Linked DNA regions of Homo sapiens: all the other regions are linked to region 3. Evidence: fine-mapped expression QTL. Tissue or cell type: whole blood. Region 3 holds a variant in brackets; each other region holds the start of a gene. All regions are shown on one strand. Distances are from middle to middle.

Region 1 (8,000 bases), 190 kb after region 3:
GCGCCTGGCCACATACCCATGGTTTCAGCATGTATCACTATCTAAAATTATTATTTTTGTTTATATATCTGTGTCGTCCCATAGAATGTTAAGGTCCCAAGATCAGAAACTTGCTCATTGCAGTGGGTCTAACACTCAGTAGGTCCTCAACAAACATTCGTTAAGATACTAAAGTGGCAGGGTGGGGCCCTGTAAACAGCTTCAGGACCCTGTGCTTGTAGGGGCAACGTGGTGCCCTCCAAGGAAGACAGGGAGGTGGGAGGAGCACTGCCCAGAGATGGCGTCAGGCTGCAAGACTTCTTGAATAATTCAGCATCATAACAACCCAGCCTCAGGAAGGGATAGGGCACGGCCAGGACGAAACATTAGGAGGCGATGGACAATGGGATTCCCACGGGGCAGCTTCTGCGCACTGGACGTTCCCTAACCTGAGGCTCTCTAAAGAGGAAGGTTAGGAATCCTCTGAGCTTCGGTGGGCTGGACTCACTGTGGGAATTCAATCGCCCCCATCCACCAACAGTGTGCTGGCGGGAAAACGCCGACACGCATGCGTAGTTCTCGCGCCGGCTCCTCTCTCTCTCTCTCTCTCTCTCGCTCGCTCTCTCGCTCTCTCGCTCTCTCTCGCTCGCTCTCTCGCTCTCGCTCTCTCTCTCTCTCCGGCTCGCCAGCGACACTTGTTCGTTCAACTTGACCAATGAGACTTGAGGAAGGGCTCTGAGTCCCGCCTCTGCATGAGTGACCGTCTCTTTTCCAATCCAGGTCCCGCCCCGACTCCCCAGGGCTGCTTTTCTCGCGGCTGCGGGTGGTCGGGCTGCATCCTGCCTTCAGAGTCTTACTGCGCGGGGCCCCAGTCTCCAGTCCCGCCCAGGCGCCTTTGCAGGCTGCGGTGGGATTTCGTTTTGCCTCCGGTTGGGGCTGCTGTTTCTCTTCGCCGACGGTAGGCGTAATGAATATTTCGACCTTTGGATCTTAGCTGTCCCCTCCCTGCGTTCGCACTTAACCTTTTTCACCATTATTATTATTATTGTTATTATTATTATTTTTTGAGGGAGTCTCGCCCTGTCGCCCAGGCTGGAGTGTAATGGCGCCTTCTTGGCTCACTGCAACCTCCGCCTCCCGGGTTCAGGCGATTCTCCGACCTCAGCCTCCCAAGTACGTGGGATTACAGGCACCCGCCACCACGCACGGCTAATTTTTTGTATCTTTTAGTAGAGACGGGGTTTCACCATGTTGGTCAGGCTGGTCTCCAATTCCTGACCTCGTGATCCGCCCGCCTCGGCCTGCCAAACAGCTGTGATTATAGGCGTGAGCCACCGCGCCCGGCCAACCATCATTATTATTTTTAACGGTAAGGATGGTCAGATTTTACTAATGAAGAAGAGATTATAAAATCTTCAAGTCTTTATATCCACTTGCTTTTTGAGGGGTGGAGTGGGAAGAAGGTTATGTAATTCATACGTTCTTCAGACATGTGACAAACATTCACGGAGCCCGGCGACGAGCGTCGGGGTTGGGATTCGCACTGGAGCTGCAGATGGGTGCCAGGATGGACTGGTCCCTACCCTCCGCTTGAACCTAGGAGGCGGAGGTTGCAGTGAACCGAGATCGTGCCACTGCACTCCAGCCTGGGTGACAGAGATACTCCGTCTCAAAAAAAAAAACAAAACAAAAAACAAGCGGACTGGGCGCAGTGCCTCACCCTGTAATCCCAGCACTTTGCAAAGCCAAGGCGGGAGGATCCTTTGAGTTTAGGAGTTTGAGACCAACCTGCGCAACACAGTAAGACCCCGTCTCTACAAAAAATACAGAAATTAGCCAGGTGTGGTGGTGTGCGCCTATAGTCCCAGCTATTCTGGAGGCTGAGGTGGGAGGATTGCTTATTCTGGAGGCAGAGGTTGCACTGAGCCGAAATCAAGCTACTACACTCCATCCAGGGCAACATACGGAGACCCTGTCTCAAACAAACAAACAAAAAATTGCTCAGTACCTGGCCAAAAAAGAAGAGGCTCACTATGCAGAGGGGAAGTGGAAGGAGATGTTTGGACTTCTAAACTCAATAGAGCAGGAGAGGCAAATGTAGAATGTGCTCAGGAAATATCTGTGAGATGAATGAACTTGAGGGAAGTAAGGTACTAGATATTACCTGCCCTACCCAGAACAAATCCTGTGCAATGTTTCCTTGAAAAGTGAGAAGTCTGGAAGGGGTGGCTACTGACATAGTGAAGCAACTAGTTCAATTCTACAACTTGACAGCTACCCCTGTGCCAGGCTATCTACGAGGATACTTAGAATGCATAAGACATTCCTTCAAGGAACTCCAGGAACAGAGGCCTGACATGTTGCAATGTTTAGTGTCAAGCAGTGTACTAGAGACACATTATCACACTCAAACCTCACAACAATTCTGTGAGGTAGGAGTTATCACTCCCCTTTTATAGATGAAACAGAGGCTTAGAGTGATTGATTTATTGAAAGTCAAACAGCCAGTAAATGGTGTAGCCAGGATTCCAAACTTGCTGTCTCACTGAGACTGTACTTAATTACTGGAGGGACCGGGTGTGGTGGCTCATTGCTATAATCCCAACACCTTGGGAGGCTGAGGCTGGTGGATCACCTGAGGTCAGGGGTTCGAGACCAGCCTGGCCAACATGGTGAAACCCCATCTCTACTAAAAATACAAAAATTAGCTGGGCATGGTGGTGGGCTCCTGTAATCCCAGCTACTCAGGAGGCTGAGGCAGGGCAATTGCTTGAGCCGAGATCACACTGCACTCCAGCCTGGGCAACAGGGCAAGACTCTGTCTCAAAACCAAAAAAAAAAAAATTACTGGAGGAACCTAGAAGAAGAAATGATCAATTTTGCTTGGAGTGTATCTAGAAAGACTTCACTGAGATCATTTAAAGAACAAAAAGGATGGCTGGGGTCCAGCGCAGTGGCTCATGCCTGTAATCCCAGCACTTTCGGATACCAAGGCAGCAGATCACCTGAGGTCCAGAGTTTCAGACCAGCCTGGCCAACATAGTGAAACCCCATCTCTACTAAAAATAAAAAAATTAGCTGAGCATGTTGGAGGGCACCTGTAATCCCAGCTACTTGGGAGGCTGAGGCAGGAGAATCACTCGAACCCAGGAGGTGGAGGTTGCAGTGAGCCAAGATCACGCCACTGCACTCCAGCCTGGGCAACAGAGTGAGACTCTGTCTCAAAAAACAACAACAACAAAAAATACAAACAAGAGACAAGTAGTTCCCAGGTGCCTACCAAGTGGTCAGGCACTGCACTTACCTCACTGACTGCAGTAACCACCCTTTGAGGTTGTGGCATTGCCTCCATTTTCCAGGCAAGGAAATGGGCTGAGAGCTGGGATTAGTCAGGTCATGACTGTGTGTGCCACTCCCGCTAAATCTCATTTGATGTGGTTCATGAGGCCACACCATGGACAGCTTCCTCCTTGTGTCCACTGAGGATATGGCTTTGTACAACACTTTGGTTTTTGAACGACTTTACAAACCTCCCTGTCTTGTGAGGAAGGAAGAACAGTTATTACCATCTGCATCTGATGATGAAACAAGGGACGCTGCAGAGGAGCCGCACTGACCACTCCCTCCCTCCAGTCCTGTCATCCCACTGCCAGTGTCCCACCCTCTTGTGCCCTGCACTTCACTGGCTAATAACCCCCCTCACTTTTTCCTCTGTGAAGCCATCCTGGATAATTCCCCACCCACGAATGGTCCCTCCTCATCTCAGAGAGCTCTCCATGCACACCTGTTACCGTTTCTGTCTTTATCTGTAAATATCTGTGTGTCTGACTTCCATGCCTCACACACCTCTATAGGGCAAAGACTGTCTTAAACATCTTGGTAGTGTCAGTATTTTGCACAGTGAAGTTTTTTTTTTTAAATTATATCAGCTTTATTTGTACCTTTTTGACATTTCTATCAAAAAAGAAGTGTGCCTGCTGTGGTTCCCATCCTCTGGGATTTAGGAGCCTCTACCCCATTCTCCATGCAAATCTGTGTTCTAGGCTCTTCCTAAAGTTGTCACCCATACATGCCCTCCAGAGTTTTATAGGGCATATAATCTGTAACAGATGAGAGGAAGCCAATTGCCCTTTAGAAATATGGCTGTGATTGCCTCACTTCCTGTGTCATGTGACGCTCCTAGTCATCACATGACCCATCCACATCGGGAAGCCGGAATTACTTGCAGGGCTAACCTAGTGCCTATAGCTAAGGCAGGTACCTGCATCCTTGTTTTTGTTTAGTGGATCCTCTATCCTTCAGAGACTCTGGAACCCCTGTGGTCTTCTCTTCATCTAATGACCCTGAGGGGATGGAGTTTTCAAGTCCTTCCAGAGAGGTAAGAGAGAGAGCTCCCAATCAGCATTGTCACAGTGCTTCTGGAATCCTGGCACTGGAATTTAATGAATGACAGACTCTCTTTGAATCCAGGGCCATCATGGCTCTTTGAGCAAGGCACAGATGGAGGGAGGGGTCGAAGTTGAAATGGGTGGGAAGAGTGGTGGGGAGCATCCTGATTTGGGGTGGGCAGAGAGTTGTCATCAGAAGGGTTGCAGGGAGAGCTGCACCCAGGTTTCTGTGGGCCTTGTCCTAATGAATGTGGGAGACCGGGCCATGGGCACCCAAAGGCAGCTAAGCCCTGCCCAGGAGAGTAGTTGAGGGGTGGAGAGGGGCTTGCTTTTCAGTCATTCCTCATTCTGTCCTCAGGAATGTCCCAAGCCTTTGAGTAGGGTAAGCATCATGGCTGGCAGCCTCACAGGATTGCTTCTACTTCAGGCAGTGTCGTGGGCATCAGGTGAGTGAGTCAAGGCAGTGGGGAGGTAGCACAGAGCCTCCCTTCTGCCTCATAGTCCTTTGGTAGCCTTCCAGTAAGCTGGTGGTAGACTTTTAGTAGGTGCTCAATAAATCCTTTTGAGTGACTGAGACCAACTTTGGGGTGAGGATTTTGTTTTTTTTCTTTTGAAACAGAGTCTTACTCTGTTGCCTGGGCTGGAGTGCAGTGGTGCAATTTTGGCTCATTCCAACCTCTGCCTCCCAGATTCAAGCGATTCTCTTGCTTCAGCTTCCCAGGTAGCTGGGATTACAGGCGGCCACCACTACGCCCAGCTAATTTTTGTATTTTTAGTAGAGACGGGGTTTCACCATGCTGGCAAGGCAGGTCTCAAACTCCTCACCTCAGGTGATCCGCCCACCTCGGCCTCCTAAAGTGCTAGGATTACAGGTGTGAGCCCCTGCGCCCGGCCAAGGGGTGAGGAATTTTGAAACCGTGTTCAGTCTCTCCTAGCAGATGTGTCCATTCTCCATGTCTTCATCAGACCTCACTCTGCTTGTACTCCCTCCCTCCCAGGTGCCCGCCCCTGCATCCCTAAAAGCTTCGGCTACAGCTCGGTGGTGTGTGTCTGCAATGCCACATACTGTGACTCCTTTGACCCCCCGACCTTTCCTGCCCTTGGTACCTTCAGCCGCTATGAGAGTACACGCAGTGGGCGACGGATGGAGCTGAGTATGGGGCCCATCCAGGCTAATCACACGGGCACAGGTAACCATTACACCCCTCACCCCCTGGGCCAGGCTGGGTCCTCCTAGAGGTAAATGGTGTCAGTGATCACCATGGAGTTTCCCGCTGGGTACTGATACCCTTATTCCCTGTGGATGTCCTCAGGCCTGCTACTGACCCTGCAGCCAGAACAGAAGTTCCAGAAAGTGAAGGGATTTGGAGGGGCCATGACAGATGCTGCTGCTCTCAACATCCTTGCCCTGTCACCCCCTGCCCAAAATTTGCTACTTAAATCGTACTTCTCTGAAGAAGGTGAGGAGGAAGGGGACAAGATGACATAGAGCCATTGAAACTTTTCGTTTTTCTTTTCTTTTTTTAAAATTTTTTTGAGGCAGAATCTCACTCTGCCCATTCTGTCGGCGAGACAGGAGTGCAGTGGTGTGATCTCCCCTCACAGCAACCTCTGCCTCCCAGGCTATAGTGATTCTCCTGCCTCAGCCTCCTGAGTAGCTGGAATTATAGGCGTGCGCCACTACCACCTGGCTAATTTTTGTATTTTTAGTAGAGACAGGGTTTCATCATGTTGACCAGGCTAGTCTTAAACTCCTGACCTCAAATGATATACCTGCCTTGGCCTCCCGAAGTGCTGGAATTACAAGTGTGAGCCACCGAGCCCAGCAGACACTTTTCTTTTTTCTTTTTTTTTTTTTGAGACAGAGTCTCGCACTGTCACCCAGGCTGGAGTGCAGTGGCACAATCTCAGCTCACTGCAACCTCCACCTCCCGGGTTCAGGTGATTCTCCTGTCTCAGCCTCTCGAGTACCTGGGATTACAGGTGCCTGCCACCACGCCCGGCTAATTTTTTGTATTTTTAGTAGAGACAGGGTTTCACTATGTTGGCCAGGATGATTGCGAACTCCTGACCTCGTGATCTGCCCACATCGGCCTCCCAAAGTGCTGGGATTACATGCGTGAGCCACTGACACTTTTCTTTGCCCTTTCTTTGGACCCTGACTTCTGCCCATCCCTGACATTTGGTTCCTGTTTTAATGCCCTGTGAAATAAGATTTCACCGCCTATCATCTGCTAACTGCTACGGACTCAGGCTCAGAAAGGCCTGCGCTTCACCCAGGTGCCAGCCTCCACAGGTTCCAACCCAGGAGCCCAAGTTCCCTTTGGCCCTGACTCAGACACTATTAGGACTGGCAAGTGATAAGCAGAGTCCCATACTCTCCTATTGACTCGGACTACCATATCTTGATCATCCTTTTCTGTAGGAATCGGATATAACATCATCCGGGTACCCATGGCCAGCTGTGACTTCTCCATCCGCACCTACACCTATGCAGACACCCCTGATGATTTCCAGTTGCACAACTTCAGCCTCCCAGAGGAAGATACCAAGCTCAAGGTAGGCATTCTAGCTTTTTCAGGCCCTGAGGGCCCTGATGTCTGGGGGTTGAGAAACTGTAGGGTAGGTCTGCTTGTACAGACATTTTGTCCCCTGCTGTTTTGTCCTGGGGGTGGGAGGGTGGAGGCTAATGGCTGAACCGGATGCACTGGTTGGGCTAGTATGTGTTCCAACTCTGGGTGCTTCTCTCTTCACTACCTTTGTCTCTAGATACCCCTGATTCACCGAGCCCTGCAGTTGGCCCAGCGTCCCGTTTCACTCCTTGCCAGCCCCTGGACATCACCCACTTGGCTCAAGACCAATGGAGCGGTGAATGGGAAGGGGTCACTCAAGGGACAGCCCGGAGACATCTACCACCAGACCTGGGCCAGATACTTTGTGAAGTAAGGGATCAGCAAGGATGTGGGATCAGGACTGGCCTCCCATTTAGCCATGCTGATCTGTGTCCCAACCCTCAACCTAGTTCCACTTCCAGATCTGCCTGTCCTCAGCTCACCTTTCTACCTTCTGGGCCTTTCAGCCTTGGGCCTGTCAATCTTGCCCACTCCATCAGGCTTCCTGTTCTCTCGGTCTGGCCCACTTTCTTTTTATTTTTCTTCTTTTTTTTTTTTTTGAGAAGGAGTCTCTCTCTCTGTCACCCAGGCTGGAGTGCTGTGGCGCCATCTTCACTCACTGTAACCTCTGCCTCCTGAGTTCAAGCAATTCTCCTGCCTCAGCCTTCCAAGTAGCTGGGATTATAGGCGCCTGCCACCAGGCCCAGCTGATTTTTCTATTTTTAGTAGAGACGGGGTTTCGCCAGGCTGTTCTCGAACTCCTGAACTCAAGTGATCCACCTGCCTCGGCTTCCCAAAGTGCTGGGATTACAGGTGTGAGCCACCACACCCAGCTGGTCTGGTCCACTTTCTTGGCCGGATCATTCATGACCTTTCTCTTGCCAGGTTCCTGGATGCCTATGCTGAGCACAAGTTACAGTTCTGGGCAGTGACAGCTGAAAATGAGCCTTCTGCTGGGCTGTTGAGTGGATACCCCTTCCAGTGCCTGGGCTTCACCCCTGAACATCAGCGAGACTTCATT
Region 2 (8,000 bases), 250 kb after region 3:
CTTCAATGGCCTGAAGCAGTGATGCCCGCTTCTCCTCCAGCACAGCCCCCAGCCCCCGCACCAGCTGCGACACCTCCTCCTTGGCCTGCTGACCACTCACCTGCCCAGGGAGCAACACCCAAAGGATGCGTGACTTACTATCTTCTTTTTGGAGGCAGCACTTGTGCTGGCCTCCTTGGATGCCACAGCATGGCTAAGGTCACAAGGGATCTGGGGAAATCCTACTCACCCATTCCTACAGGGCCTGGGCTCATGGCTGCAAAGGCACCTCTAGATGGACTCAACTCCTGGTCATTTGTGCCAACCTTCCCGGAACCCCACATCATAATCTCTGCCCCTTAGTGACTCATCCAAATGAACGAGGCCATGGCTACCCTAATGTCCACTTGGACTGCACTAATTAATGTCCACTGGCATCTATGCCATCCTTAGTTGTCCATCCCCATGTCAGCCAGCTCAAGCAACCTGGCAGAAGGTATCAGTCATCACCTCACTCTAGCACTGGGAATGCGTGACATCCTCGGTAGGCACCTGAGCCTGAGAGCATCTGAGCTACGCGTGGGGTTTTTTGAGCTATGCATGGGGTTTTTCGAGCACTCTCCTGAGCTATAGCCACCCTGCCCCCTCCTGCAGCCCAGGTACAGCCTGGCCTGGGGCACTGGTGTTCCTGCAAACCTGGTTTAACCAGAACCTGGACACCTCACGGGCTTCCTGAGCTAGCAACAAGGTGATTGGGTCATGATCACCCACACCCCCTTCCTGCCCCTACTCCCAGGCAGGGCCCAGGGCCTACCTCTGTGCCCTCCCTCACCTCGGTGTGCCTCACGGCCTCCTCCAGCTCACAGATCTGGGTCTGTACCGTGTCCTGGTTTCCCAGGATGTATGTCAGGCTCTTTGTCAGCTTGTCCTGAGGGGGAAGAAAGAGGTGGGCATCAAGCCCAGCTCTGCAGAAGCCAGCAGTTGGGAGGAGGTGCAAGAGGGTAAGAGTGTGAGTTAGCACTAGGGTTGGATAAGGGGGGTCCTTACCTTGAGGGCCTGGTAGGCACTGAGCACTGGTGTGATCTTGTGCCCGCTGTGGGTGCGCCGCACCCGGCAGAGTTGACATACCAGGCGTTGGCATGTCTTGCAGTAGTGGGTCACCTCTTCCTTGTGGTCTGGGCACATAAGGCCCTAGGGACACAAAGAACAATGTGATGGTCAGACAATGGTGTGGGTAAGGGTGCTATGCTACCACTACAGCAGTTTGGTGCCCTCCTCCACTGGCAAGATGGGAGTGGAGACATCCGCTGGTGGTGCTCCACAGTGCCACCTGGTGGTACATACTGGCATCAAAGAGCCTTTCCTGCAGTCTCCGGGCGGTGCCCATTTCACCAGCATTGCACCTCCCTTCATCTCTCTCATTGGGATATATGGTAATAACAGTAATAATGATGCCAATTAATCTTTGCCTGGTAGTTAATAATTAACCTTGTCCATCTTGTTTACTGCTGTATCTCCAACACCTAGAATAGCACCATGCACATAGGTGCTCAATAAATATTTGTTCAGTGAGTGAATGCACACAGACCTTTTCAGTGTGCAGGTAACACTTTTTAGTGAACAAACATTATCTCACACCATCCTCTCAGCAACCCTTTAGGTATGGACATTGCAGGGCAGATACTACCATCCCCCTACAGGGATGTAAATGAGATGGAGGCCCAAAGTTGTTGAATGATTTGTCCAGTGACTTTGTGACAGATTACAGAGATAGGTGCTTAGCATTGGAAAACCCTTCCCACTTCCTTTTGGAAACCCACAATGCCAGGCACCCCCACCCACCTGCAGCAGCATGTCCCTCCCTCCCCAGGCCTTGGAAGGGCTGGCTCACCTTGGGTCGGAAGGAGAGGGTAGGCAGGGTGGGCTCATGCTGGGCCTTCTGGGTGCCCCAGGGGTGGAAGAGCTTGAAGCACTCATTGCAGAAGGTGGCGCGGCACTCTGTGCAGCCCTTGGTGGCCTCTAGTGGTGGGGGCTTGCACAACTGGCACAGGATGGCACCTCCCACACTCACACTCTGGCGGTACCGCTCCACCACACGCTCCAGGGTCAGGTTCCGGAAAAGCCCTGCCAGACCCCGCTCCCCAAGCTCCACATCACCTTGGCAGGCTGGGCACGGGAACATGATCACTTGGGGGTGCAAAGCACCTCGCTTCCTCCCAGGGTATGTCCCAAAGCCTGTGGGTGAACCAGGGAGGTAGAGGACATGAGAGTTACAGCTGGCTGGGTGTGGGGAAGCCTGTTTAATTAAATTAGATTTTCATTGTGCCAGAGCTCAGCTCTCATTAGAGCCTGCGTAAGCAGTATCTCCACCCCCCAGAAAGACAGACAGATGCCTCTGACCAGTGATGGACTTCTTCCATCTTCCTGATGAATAGCTCAGCGTTCCCATCCCCACCCTACAGGCCCCAGTCCCACCTGACTTAAGCAGCCGGTCCAGGCGGTCTGGCTTGGGGAGAGTTCTGCGGGAGAGGCGGGGGCTGCGGGTGGAAGGGGTGGAGGCAGGAGAGGTGGGCTCGGAGCTGGGGTCCCCACCATGTCCTATGTAGCCCTGCTGGCCCAAGACCTCTCGGGCACAGGCCTGGCACACGTTGTGGGTACAGGGCAGCACCAGTGGCTGCTTGTACATCTCTTGACACACTGGGCACAGCAGTTCCTTCTCCATGTTCTTCATGCTGGTCTGTGGAGGGACCAGGAGGCTAGGTCAGCGCTTGGACACTTAGGCATACCTCAGCAGCCCCTTGGCTGCCCTTGGATACCCTAGGGGTCTGAGGAAGGAGCAAGACAAGCTACCTGCAGCTTTTCCAGAGCACCTGCCTTGGGCTGGTTCACAGACCTTCCCAGACCTCTGTCCCTTGCTTCTCTTTCCCCGCTGCAGAGCTAAAGGCCCAGAGGAGGGACGGTTGGAGCTTGTGCCTGCTCCAGCCTCAAGCCCAATCCCCATTTCTCCAGCTGCAGTAGCCCCAGCTGGCAGCCCCCTCACCTGCCTCCATCCCCCATCTCTGGGCAGCTTGCCCCTGGCATTTTTCTCAAGGACACCGCCCATTCTGCAGCTCCATGCAGACCCCCACTCCCTTCTCTAGCAGCACCCCCATGCCGTGATTCCTCCCGATAGCCAGGCGAGGTTGGCACTCCATCCTGCTCGCTCCATACGTCCTCCTGCCGCAGCTCCGGCCTGCGGCCACTCCAGCCTCCATTCCCCATCCTTCACTTCCCCATCGGTCTTACCAACCCATTCCCCTTCGCCCCCATCAGGCCCTCCCGCCCTCTCCCGCAGCGCAACCCGGTCAGCGGCACCCCCTTCTCCGAACTAGCGGGGGAATCAAGAGCCCCGCCTACTCGCCCCCTCCCCACCGGAAGTCCCCTCCCCCTCTTGGTGGCGAGAGTGGGGGTCCTCAGGCTATGCCCCACCCCCACACCTCACCTTGGTCCCTCTCTTCGCAGCCATCCCGGTCAGGGGCGCAGCTGACACAAAGGAGGGAGGAACAAGGAGGGGGGGAGGAAGTGGTGGGGGGGAACACGGTTGGCACCGCCCCTGGGAGAGCCAGGCACGGGTTGCCATGACAACCGCAGGCTCGGAAGCAGCCCTGAGTGGGGGTGCGTGGGGTGGGGTCTTGGGGAGGGGTCCAAATTGGGAACTGCACTGTGGGGCGGCTCCTACATCATCCCCCACCTGTCCTCAGTTTTCTTGGAAAATATCCAAGCTCACACGTCCCTCTTCTCATAACAGGGCCTTTCCCCTGAAGCCCCAGCCCCGGTGCACTGCTGGAGGCCACCCCAGCCCACCCGCTGCGTCTGGGCTGCTCCTAGCTCCTCCTCACGCTCCAGCACACCGACGCCTTCACGGCACTCACCTCCGGGCTGCTCCCGGGATTACCCTCTCATACCTGCATCCCGACCCTCCCAGCCGTTTCTGCCATCGCTAGCCCCCTGTCTACATCCCAGCATCTTCCTGGATCCCCACCTGTTCCAGGTCCCAGCTTGCCCCAGAACCCTATACGCCCCCTCCCCTTCCCTCGACCCCACCTTAACTCACACTGATGCGGACCAGTGCGTCCATGATGGAAGTGAAGGTCTGCATATCCTCACCCTCTGCCATGGCCCTACCGTGCCCGCCCGCCCCTGGGTGCCCGATCCCGGCTGCGGCTGCGAACCCCGGGCTTAATGCAGGAGCCCAGTGGGGGTGTGAGGAGGGCTGGGGGTTGAGGTGTCACTGCGCATGCTCCCGGGACCAGCCTCGAACAGCGCCCGTCGGGGTAGGGGGTGGGAAATAGTTCTCCCCACGTGGTTCTCGAAAGCCGGTCGGGGGGTTGGGGAATATGGAAAGGTATTTGACGGGGGAGCCATTTCTTACATTCTCATTTTTCATTGGCTCCTAATTTTACTCATATAAAGCGGGGGATTAGTTTCGGAGGAAAATGAGTTCCTGGTTGGGAGCACTAAATTTTAGGTTGGGAGATGTTGAGGCATGGGGCAGGGAGGTTTGAGGAACGTGCACTAGAGATGAAAGAAATGGCAAAGAAGACAGAGATGGGATAGATGCCACAGGCATGGGCCCAATGACTTAAAGAGATAAGTGCACCTTGTACAGAGTGGCAGCAGACGCACCAGGTACGAGGAAAGCCTGAGGACCAGGGCGGTGGCCGAGGATGCCCCCTCGACGCATTATTTCCTCCCTGTCGCAAGAGGGCGCTGCGTCCAGGCACTGAGAGGAAGAAAGAGGAGAACGCGAGGAGTAGCAAGTCCGCGGTAAGCGCTGACGCATGCGCATAGCTAACCGCACCCGGTTCAGCTCGCCTTTCTTGGCCAGAGGCGCCGGTTGGACTCACGGGCGGGGCATGATGGGTAACAGGACCGGTGGGGTCCCCAGGAAGTCCTAGAGGGGGTCGGGGTTTGGGTGGACAAGCTTTCCTCGTCCTCTCCCGACAGAGCTGACGTGTCCTGGGTTCCACCGGGAGCGGGCATTTCCACCGGACGGGAGGGTTCGGGGTGTCCGGGGCTGGGGAATACGTAGGGGTTGCCGCGCGGTGTGGGGAGTTGGGGCGTGTGGCTGCAGTCCCGGGAGTTCTTGGAGGGGGTCGGCCCACCGAGCTTCCGGACCGGCTGATCTGCCCGTAGCTTGCCGGAGGGAGGGCGGAGCCTGACTCTCCGTCCCTTCTCCCATCCCCTCCAGTGGTGGGTACGGGCACCTCGCTGGCGCTCTCCTCCCTCCTGTCCCTGCTGCTCTTTGCTGGGATGCAGATGTACAGCCGTCAGCTGGCCTCCACCGAGTGGCTCACCATCCAGGGCGGCCTGCTTGGTTCGGGTCTCTTCGTGTTCTCGCTCACTGTATCCTCCCTGCAGTTGGAGGGGGCGGGCCACGTAGGCATGTGCCCTTCCCCTTCCCCACACAGCTCTGTCCCCGTTGCACACCCTACTCCTTAACTCCCTCAACCAGGCCTTCAATAATCTGGAGAATCTTGTCTTTGGCAAAGGATTCCAAGCAAAGATCTTCCCTGAGAGTAAGTGAATATTGGAGCTTGAGTATTTGAACTTTCTCCTCTTTAACCTCCTGAAACATGATATTGAATTTCCAGATGCTTAGGTGAAAGGTTGTTAAGGAGAAATATATTTACTGAAGCTGTCTGAAGACAGATGACGCTTTTCGATTCTGCACCTTGTATAGCTCCTGGAGTTGGAGCTGGAAGAGAAGGCCTTTGAAAGCAAGAAACTTTGGTACCTTCTGGCCAGCTCCCAGGGAAGGTTTGAGGGGAACAGGCAAATTTGGGCTGATGTTTTGCATCTATTCGCTGGGAGGCGGTCCTTGTTCCCACCAGAAGAAGCAGCAGGACCAAGTTCACTATGGAGTTCTGATGTGAAGTTAACTCAATATTAGAGAATTCTACTTATTTGAGGGAATTGTGAAGAGCCTAAATACTAGAGGCACCAAATATCTATGGCAGCAGGAATCCTGACCAAATCAGAATAACTGTTAGATTATTTCCTGTTTGGAATAATTCTTGTTCAATTGCTCATGTAATCAAGAATTGATGATTCAGTTATTTATGGAGAATTAAGTTTATAAAGCAAATTAAGTGTCAAGGCCAGATTACTTAAGGAATGCCACGTGCTCAGAAATTCACAGCAGATGCAATCTCATGTAAAACCCTCATGTGGTAAAACAAAGATCTATCATGGTTGCCCTTAATCTTTTCTCTTTTTTTTTTTTTTTTTTTTTTGAGACAAGGCTTTACTCTGTCGCCTAGGCTGGAGTGCAGGGATGTGATCACTGAAGCCTTGACCTGGTCTCAAGCAATCTTCCCTCCTCAGTCTTACCAGTAGCTGGGACTACCAGTGAGTGCCACCACACCCAGCTACTGTTTTAAGTTTTTGTAGAGATGGGGTTTCACCACATTGCCCAGGCTGGTCTCGAACTCCTGGGCTCAAGTGATCCTCCTATTTCAGCCTCCCAGAGTGCTGGAATTACAGGTGTGAGCCACTGTGCCTGGCTGCCCTCATTTCTTTGCCCCCCTCTAGGACTTGCTTTCTCCGCATAGCCCTTTTGCAGGCTTCAGAGTTCTTTCCATCCAGTAGCCCCGGGACTTCTCTCTGTTAGGTTTTGTTTCCATATGTATTACCTTCACTTGCTTCTTTTTTTTTTTTTTTTTGAGATGGAGTCTCGCTCTGTCACCCATGCTGGAGTACAGTGGTGTGAACCCAGCTCACTGGAGCCTCTGCCTCCCAGGTTCAAGCGATTCTCCTGCCTCAGCCTCCCGAGTAGCTGGGATTACATGCGTGCGCCACCATAACTGGCTAATTTTTGTATTTTTGGTAGAGATAGGATTTCACCATGTTGGTTAGGCTGGTCTTGAACTCCTGACCTTAAGTGATCCACCCGTCTTGGCCTCCCAGAGTGCTGGGATTACAGGGGTGAGCCACTGTGCCTGGCTTTTCAGTTGCTTCTGAAAGAAACCATTGGCTGGGTGGGATGGCACACGCCTGTAATCCTAGCACTTTGGGAGGTGTAGGCTGGCAGATAGCTTGGGCCCAGGAATTCAAGACCAGCTTGGGCAACATAGAGAGACCCTGTCTCTCCAAAAAAATACAAAAATTAGCCGGGCATGGTGGTACGCACCTATAGTCCCAGGTACTCGGGAAGCTGAGGTGGGATGATCGCTTGAGCCCAGGAGATCAAGGCTGCAGTGAGCTGAAACTGCACCACTGCACTCCAGCCTGGGCGACAGAGTGAGATTCTGCCTCAAAAATAAAAAAAAATAATAAAAAAAGAAAAGATGCCATTGTGGTGGGGCAAAGTTCTTGGCCCACTTTGCCTTCTCTGCCCTCTCCACCTGGGCAGGTGGGGCCCTGTTTGTCTTTGCTTTTGTCCTCTCACCTTCTCTCCCATCATATTCCAGGTAACCTAAAATCCTTTCCTGCCCCCATGAAGAAGTAGATCCAAGCACTCTGCCCTCCAACCTGTGTCCAGGGAGCAAGGCCTTCAACTTCCACCACTGGTCACCCAGCTTAATGAATTGACTCTCATTGTCTGGCTTCTTTTGGAAAGGGTTTAACTGGGTTCCCCAAATGGGAACACACCTTGCCCTTCAGACTCTGTTGTCCATCACCTTTCCTTTTTCCTTTTATGGGAGGAAAGCCAGGGTAGGGAAGTTATGTGAGATATGGGGCAGAGCTGGTAAAAAAAAGCATACATCTACATCCATGTTCTTTTTTTTTTTTTTTTTTTTTGGAGACGGGGTCTCACTCTGTTGCCCAGGCTGGAGTGCAGTGGTGCGATCACAGTTCACTGCAACTTTGAACTTCCTGGCTCAAGGGTTCCTCCAACTTCAGCCTCCTGAATAGCTGGGACTACAGGCATGTGTACCACTGTACTACCTGGCTAAATTTTTTTTAATTCAATTTTTTTTTTTTTTAAGAGATGGGTCTCACTTTGTTGTTCAGGCTGGTCTCAAACTCCTGGGCTCAAG
Region 3 (8,247 bases):
AGACATCTTGACCATTTATGTTAGGAAGGGTCATCTTTAAAATGTGCTTCAAGAAAAGGCTTTCATCAGCCTGGGTAACATGGTGAAACCCCGTCTTTACCAAAAAATACAATAAATTAGCTGGGCGTGGTGGTGTTGCACGCCTGTGGTCCCAGCTACTTGGGAGGCTGAGGTGGGGGGATCGCTTGAGCCAGGGAAGCAGAGGTTGCAGTGAGCCTAGATTGTACCACTGCACTCCAACCTGGATGACAGAGTAAGACTTCGTCTCAACAACGACAAAAAAGGCTTTTGAATAGGTTAGCCTTTCTATTCCAGCAAATTCTAGTATCATGGTCAGCAAAATTAAACACATACTTTTTCACAAGATTGTATTCTGAGATTTGAAGAGATTATAAAGAGAAAGATAAAATTTCTGCCCTCAAGAGATTGTGTAGGGAAGGACATGACACACTGAGTTCCCAGAGATAGCAACAGTTTTTCAACTTGTTCTAATTGGAGCTTACACTAGTACTTGTTATATAATATGTATTCATTTATTTTTTCAATTAGTATTTGTTGGAAGATTATTATGTTTCATGTACTTAGAATTGATAGAGTGGTGAATAAATCTAGAAACTTTTCCTACCTTCATGGATTTTAACCATCCAAGTGCTATTATGAAGAGTTACTTAGAGTTATAAGAGTACTGTATATAATAGAAATAACTAACTTAGTTTCCCAGAAAAAGTAAGGACTATGCTAAAAATGTGAAGAATAGGCTTCATCTGTTATTTAAAGGAGTGAGGAGAGAGCATACACAAAAGTCTGAAAAAGCATGATAGTTTCAGGCAAGCGAAAGAAAGCTTTTGTGGTCAAAACATGGAGTAGAGTAGCATGGGATACAGATAGAGGTTGTAGGGATCAGATTGTGCCAAGAACCTTGTATGATATATTAAAGATTTTGGTCACTATTTGTTGATTAATATAAAACCAGAATGCACAGGAAGAATTTAATGGTTATGAGGTGGGCTTCTAGACTCGGAAAACCTAGGTTCAAATCCTGGTTTTAAAAAGAAAAAGGTATATTTTTAAAACACTTATAAATTTTTGCTGTAAAAAATAAAATCAGGCCAGGTGTGGTGGCTCACACCTGTAATCCCAGCAGTTTGTCAGGCTGAGGCAGGAGGATCACTTGAGGCCAGGAGTTCAAGACAGCCTGAGCAGTGTGGCTGGTTGTAGCTACCGTTTCTACAAAGAACTGTTTGTTTGTTTGTTTATTTTAGACAGGGTCTTGCTGCGTCCCCCAGGCTGGACTACAGTGGCACAATCTCAGTTCACTGCAACCTCCACCTCCCGGGCTCAAGCGTCTCCACCCCCATCCCTCCCCCACAGTGGCTGGGACTGCAGGCGGGGGCCACCAGGCCTGGCTAATTTTTGTGTTTTTTGTAGAGATGGGGTCTCACTATGTTACCCAGGCTGGTTTTGAACTCCTGCACTCAAGCGATCCTCTCAACTTGACCTCCCAAAGTGCTAAGATTACAGGTGTGAGCACCGCACCTGGTCCATCTCTACAAAACATTTAAAAATTAAATGAGCGTGGTGGCTCGTGTCTGTGGTTCTAGCTACTTGGGAGGCTGAGGTGGGAGGATCACTTGCACTCAGGAGGTTGAGGCTGCAATGAGCTGTGTTCCTTCACTGCACTCCAGCCTTGGTGACAGAGTGTGACCTTGCCTCTAAAAATACATATATATTATAGCAAGACTTTGTCTCTAAAAATATGTATCTTATAATGTATATTATATGTAAATATTATATATATATATATTTTTGTTGTTGTTGAGACGGCATCTTGCTCTGTTGCCCAGGCTGGAGTACAATGGCTTGGCTCACTGCAACCTCCACCTCTTGGGTTCTAGCGATTTTCCTGCCTCAGCCTCTGGAGTAGCTGGGATTACAGGTCCTGCCACCATGCCCGGCTAATTTTTGCATTTTTAGTAGAGACAGGGTTTCACCATATAGGCCAGGGTGGTCTCGAACTCCTGACCTCAAGTCTGCCCACCTTGGCCTCCCAAAGTGCTGGGATTACAGGCGTGAGCTACCACACCTGACCGAAAAAAATTGTTAAGAGCTTGCTGGCCACACCAATAGTCTCAGCTACTCTGGAGGCTGAGGCTGGAGGATTGGTTGAACCCAGGAGTTTGAGACCAGCTTGGGCAATGGCAAAACCCTATTTCTAAAAACAATTTTATGAAAATAAGAAATTAAAAGAACAAGTGAATGAGCCTGAAAATGATATTGGAAGAATGTAAAACATACACCTTAAGTTAATAAAATAAGGCAAATGTATAACAGTAAGAGTCACTTTTAAGACCAAAGTTCTTTGAAAACTAATAAAATAGACAAACTTCTGGTAAAGCCGATCAATAGGAATGAGAAAGGGAATAAATAGGGATTTAAAAGGAAATAAAGTGTATATAAGAGATTAAAAATTTACTACTGTGAGAACTTTAAGCCCATCAAATGGGAAAACTGTTGAAATGGACATGTTCCTAGAAAAATACAATTTTAACAAAACATACTCAAAAGAAATTACCTGAGCACTCCTATTGCCTAAATTGAATCTATTATTTAAAGTCTTGCCCCAAGAACAGCATCAGACCCAATTTTAACTTCTACCACACTTTCAAGAAAAATATTATTCCCATCTCATTAAAGAGAATATGGGCTGCAAACAGAAGAGGATACATCTAAAGAGAATACATAAACAGGCCAGATGAGGTGGCTCACACCTGTAGTCCCAGCATTTTGGGAGGCAGAGGCAGGAGTATTGCTGGAGCCCAGGGGTTGAAGACCACCCTGGGCAACATAGGGAAACTCCATCTCTACAAAAAACTTAAAAATCAGCCAAGTGTGGTGGCGCATGCCTGTAATCCCAGCTACTCGGGAGGCTGAGGCAGGAGAATTGCTTGAACCTGGCAGGCGGAGGTTGCAGTGAGCTGAGATCGCATCAGTGCGCTCCAGCCTGGGCGACAGAGTGAGACTCTGTCTCAAAAAAAAAAAAACTTAAAAATCAGCTGGACGTGCTGATGTGTGCCTGTAGTCCCAGCTACTAGGGAGGCTGAGGTGTTAAGGGATTGCTTGAGCTTGTCCAGGAGGTCGAGGCTACAGTGAGCCATAATCGTGCCACCACATTCCATCCTGGGTGACAAAGCGAGAACCTGTCTTAAAAAACAAATAAGAGACAAACAAGAGAATACATAACATAAGCTAAGTAAATTTTCTGTAGAGGTCGTACCCATATAAATATTCAGGAGGTGACCATACTTTCCCTGTTTGTAAACCCCTTTTCTTGCCAGAAGCTATAACCAATCTTCTGACTTTTAAGGTAACCACATATTTACCTTTTAAAATACTATTTATGTGTGCAGCTCTAAACAATACAGCTTATTCTTCCTGAATTTCATGTAAATCTAATTATACAGGTTGGGTGCCATATCATGCCTGTAATTTCAGCAATTTTGGAAGCCGAGGCGTGTGGATCGCTTGAACCCAGGAGTTTGAGAGTAGCCTAGGCAACATCGTCTCTACTAAGAATACAAAAAGTTAGCCAGTTGTGGTAGCACACGCCTGTAGTCCTAGCTACTCAGGAAGCCAAGTGGGAGAATCACTTGAGCCCAGGAGGTAGAGATTGCAGTGAGCCAAGATCACATCACTGCAATCCACCCAGGGTGACAGAGTGAGACCCTGTCTCAAAAAAGCAAAAACAAACAAACAAAATTAATTACAGAGGACATATACTATTGTGTCTCACCTTTTTTTGCTCAACATAGTCATGTTAAATTATGTATGTTAATGCATGTTGCTGTAGTTTTAATGTGTTGTTTCATTGTTTGTGTGTAATACAGTTCTTCGATTTTACTCTTGGATTATTTTCAACTTGAGGTTATTGCCCAAAAAAACTGCTTTTAATATTCCTCTAATGTCCACTGGTGGATATGGACACTAATTTCTCTAAAGCATTGTATATATATATATGCCGAGACCAGCTCGGTCGGGGAGACCCTAACCCAGTGGCGCTAGAGGAATTAAAGACACACACACAGAAATATAGAGGTGTGAAGTGGGAAATCGGGTCTCACAGCCTTCAGAGCTGAGAGCCCCGAACAGAGATTTACCCGCGTATTTATTAACAGCAAGCCAGTCATTAGCATTGTTTCTATAGATATTAGATTAACTAAAAGTATCCCTTATGGGAAACGGGATTAACTAAAAGTATCTCTTATGGGAAACAAAGGGATGGGCCGAAATAAAGGGATGGGTTTGGCCAGTTACCTGCAGCAGGAGCATGTCCTTAAGGCACAGATCGCTCATGCTATTGTTTGTGGTTTAAGAACGCCTTTAAGCGGTTTTCCAGCCTGGGTGGGCCAGGTGTTTCTTGCCCTTATTCTGGTAAACCCACAGCCTTCCAGCGTGGGTGTCATGGCCATCATGAACATGTCACAGTGCTGAAGAGATTTTGTTTATGGCCAGTTTTGGGGCCAGTTTATGGCCAGATTTTGGGGGGCCTGTTCCCAACATATATATATATATTTTTTTTTTTGAGACGGAATTTCATTGTTGTCGCCTAAGCTAGAGTGCAGTGGCACAATCTCGGCTTACTGCAACCTCCATCTCCTGGGTTCAAGCAATTCTCCTGCCCTCAGTCTCCCGAGTAGCTGGGATTAGAGGCGCCCACCACCACACCCGGCTAATTTTTTTGTACTTTTAGTAGAGACGGGGTTTCACCATGTTGGTCAGGCTGGTCTTGAACTCCTGACCTCAGGTGATCCACCTGCCTTGGCCTCCCAAA[G/T]TGCTGGGATTACAGGCGTGAGCCACTGCACCCAGACTTAAGGCATTATACTAATTTGTTCTCACATTGCTATAAATACCTGAGACTGGGTAATTTATAAAGAAAAGAGGTTTAATTCGTTCATGGTCCTGCAGGCTGTATAGTAAGCATGATGCTGGCATCTCCTAGGCTTCTGGGGAGGCTTCAGGAAACTTACAGTCATGGGGAGTATACTGGTTACAGGGCTAGAGCAGGAGCAAGAAGGAGAAGGACGAAGTGCCATACACTTTTTAAAGCACCAGATCTCAACAGAACTCACTCACTATGGCAACGACAGCATCGGGGGATGGTGCTAAACTGCTTAAGAGAAAACCACCCCCATGGTCCAGTCACCTCCCACCAGGTCTCACCACCAATATTGGTGATTACATTCCAGCGTGAGATGTGGGCAGGGCGCACATCCAAACTGTATCAGGGGCCGGGTGCAGTGGCTTGTGCCTGTAATCCCAGCAATTTGGGAGGCCGAGGTGGGTGGATCACCTGAGGTCAGGAGTTTAAGACCAGCCTGGCCAACATAGTGAACACCCATCTCTACTAAAAATAGAAAAATTAGCCGGGCGCAGTCGCTCTTGCCTGTAATCCCAGCATTTTGGGAGGCCGAGGTGGGCGGATCACCTGAGGTCAGGAATTTGAGACCAGCCTGGCCAACACGGCGAAACCCTGTCTCTACTAAAAAGTACAAAAATTAGCCAGGTGGTGGGCGCCTATAGTCCCAGCTACTCAGGAGCCTGAGGCAGGACAATCGCTTGGACCCGGGAGGCGGAGGTTGCAGTGAGCCGGGATCTGGCCACTGCACTCCAGCCTGGGCAACAAGAGCGGGACTCCATCTCAAAAAAAAAAAGAAAAATTAAAATTAGCCAGGTGTGGTGCTGCATGCCTGTAATCCCAGCTACTCATGAGGCTGAGGCAGCAGAATTGCTAGAACCTTGGAGGTGAAGGTTGCAGTGAGCTGAGATCAGACCACTTCACTCCAGCCTGGGTGACAGAGCGAGACTCTGTCTCAAAAAAAAAAAAAAAAAAAATTATATCAGAGTATATACCTGGAAAGGTAATTACTGAATAAAATAAAGGATTTGTCCCAAGACTTAATTTCAAGCTATGGAGTATTAAGGTGGTGTGGAATTGAATAGATAAAAGAAACAGACCTACACATATATGGAAGCTTGCTGGGTAACAGAGGCATATAAAGAACTGTTCAACAAATTGTGCCCAGTAAGTTGAAATCCCTGGGGATCAGAAGGAAATTGGATTCTGTCTTATCCTCTATACAAAAAATCAACTCCCAGTTGATTAAATACAGTTGACCCTTGAACAACACAGATTTGAGATTTGCGATACTTAAACTCACAGATGAACTGTGTAGCCTAGAAAAAAATTTTTTAGTTTTTAATTTTTATTTTTTGTGGATACATAGTAGGTGTAGCCTAGAAATAGTCAAAAAAATTAAAAAGTATGTCATGAACGGATAAAATATTTGTAGATGTTAATCCATTTTATTGTTTGCAGAAAGACATAAGATATACACAAATCTATTATAAAAAGTTAAAATTTCACTGGGAGTCTGATGTGGGCAGATCACCTGAGGTCAGAAGTTCGAGACTATCCTGGCCAACATGGTGAAACCCTATCTCTATTAAAAATATAAAAATTAATGGGCCAGGCGCGGTGTCTCACGCCTGTAATCCCAGCACTTTGGGAGGCCGAGGCGGTCGGATCACGAGGTCAGGAGATCGAGACCATCCTGGCTAACACGGTGAAACCCCGTCTCTACTAAAAAATACAAAAAGCTGGGTGCGGTGGCTCATGCCTGTAATCCTAGCACTTTGGGAGGCCAAGGCAGGTGGATTGCTTGAGCTCAGGAGTTCGAGACCAGCCTGGGCAACATGGTGAAACCCCATCTCTACTAAAATACAAAAAAAAAAATTAGCCGGGCATGATGGCACACTCCTGTAATCCCAGCTACTAGGGAGGCTGAGGCAGGAGAATCACTTGAACCTGGGAGGCAGAGGTTGCAGTGAGCCAAGATCGTGCCATTGCACTCCAGCCTGGGTGACAGAGTGAGACCCTGTCTTAAAAAATAAATAAATAAATAAATAAAATTAGCCGGGCATGGTGGCAGGCGCCTGTAGTCCCAGCTACTTGGGAGGCTGAGGCAGGAGAATGGCGTGAACCCAGGAGGCAGAGCTTGCAGTGAGCCGAGATCGCGCCACTGCACTGCAGCCTGGGTGACAGAGCGAGACTCCGTCTCAAAAAAAAAAAACACCACAAAAAAAATTAGGCCAGGCATGGGGGCTCCCACCTGTAATCCTGGTACTTTGGGAGGCTGAGGTGGGTGGATCACCTGAGGTCAGGAGTTCGAGCCAGCCTGGCCAACGTGGTGAAACCTCTTCTCTACTAAAAATAAAAAAATTAGCCCTGCTTGGCCGGGTGTGGTGGCTCACGCCTGTAATCCCAGCACTTTGGGAGGCCAAGGCAGGCAGATCATGAGGTCAGGAGTTCAAGACCAGCCTGACCAACATGGTGAAACCTGGTCTCTACTAAAAATACAAAAAATTAAGCATGGTGGCACATGCCTGTAATCCCAGCTACTTAGGAGTCTGAGGCAGGAGAATCGCTTGAACCCAGGAGGCAGAGATTGCAGTGAGCCAAGATCGCACCATTGCACTCCAGCCTGGGCAACAGAGCGAGACTCCACCTCAAAAAAAAAAAAAATAGCCCTGCATGATGGTGAGTGCCTGTAATCCCAGCTACCTGGAGGCTGAGGCAGGAAAATCACTTGAACCCAGGAGGCAGAAGCTGCAGTGATCCGAGATCGCGCCACTGCACTCCAGCCTGGGCGACAGAGGAAGACTCTGTCTCAAAAAAAAAAAAAAAAAACTAGGCCGGGCGTGGTGGCCCATGCCTGTAATCCCAGCACTTTTGGGAGACCAAGGTGGGTGGATCACTTGAGGTCAGGAGTTCGAGTTCGAGACCAGCCTGACCAACATGGTGACCCTGTCTCTACTAAAAATACAAAAATTAGCCGGGCATGGTTGTGCATGCCTTTAATCACAGCTACTGAGGAGGCTGAGGCAGGAGAATAACTTGAACCTGGGAGGCGGAGATTGCAGTGAGCTGATGTTGCTCCAATGCACTCCAGCCTGGCCACAGAGTAAGGCTCTGTCTCAAAAAAAAAACACAAAAACTAGCCAGGTGAGGTGGTGGGTGTCTATACTCCCAGCTACTTGTGAGGCTGAGGCAGAATCATTTGAACCCTGGGTAGCGAAGGTTGCAGTGAGCCAACATCATGCCATTGCACTCCAGCCTGGGCAAAAAAGCAAGACTCTGTCTCAAATAAAAAGTTAAAATTTATCAAAATTTACAAACACAAACTATACATG

What was found. PIP is the estimated chance that this variant, and not a neighbour inherited with it, causes the effect.
Region 1: GBA1 starts here. The variant in region 3 is fine-mapped to the expression of GBA1 in whole blood (TOPMed, PIP above 0.99).
Region 2: TRIM46 starts here. The variant in region 3 is fine-mapped to the expression of TRIM46 in whole blood (TOPMed, PIP above 0.99). The same link has a PIP of 0.9 or more in blood mononuclear cells.

What each region holds. Positions count from the first base shown.
Region 1 is chr1:155,237,443-155,245,442 of GRCh38, reverse strand. It overlaps GBA1 (glucosylceramidase beta 1), which reads left to right and starts at 4,194. Exons shown (of 11, transcript NM_000157.4): 1 at 4,194-4,357; 2 at 4,726-4,813; 3 at 5,366-5,557; 4 at 5,681-5,827; 5 at 6,793-6,926; 6 at 7,137-7,309; 7 at 7,865-8,000. The coding sequence starts at 4,331. RefSeq lists an enhancer at 686-1,649.
Region 2 is chr1:155,170,102-155,178,101 of GRCh38, reverse strand. TRIM46 (tripartite motif containing 46) reads right to left here and starts at 4,253. Exons shown (of 10, transcript NM_025058.5): 1 at 4,073-4,253; 2 at 2,455-2,716; 3 at 1,871-2,214; 4 at 1,027-1,170; 5 at 812-907; 6 at 1-100. The coding sequence starts at 4,135. It overlaps KRTCAP2 (keratinocyte associated protein 2), which reads left to right and starts at 4,798. Exons shown (of 5, transcript NM_173852.4): 1 at 4,798-4,881; 2 at 5,210-5,364; 3 at 5,474-5,537. The coding sequence starts at 4,878. RefSeq lists silencers at 3,715-4,009, 4,179-4,268 and enhancers at 4,018-4,526, 4,599-4,648, 4,849-4,948, 4,527-5,035, 5,139-5,418.
Region 3 is chr1:155,424,775-155,433,021 of GRCh38, reverse strand. All of the region lies in intron 5 of ASH1L (ASH1 like histone lysine methyltransferase), which reads left to right. Among named protein-coding and RNA genes, the nearest start is that of MIR555, 82 kb to the right of the region's middle. The variant G/T (reference allele first, on the strand shown) is at 4,829.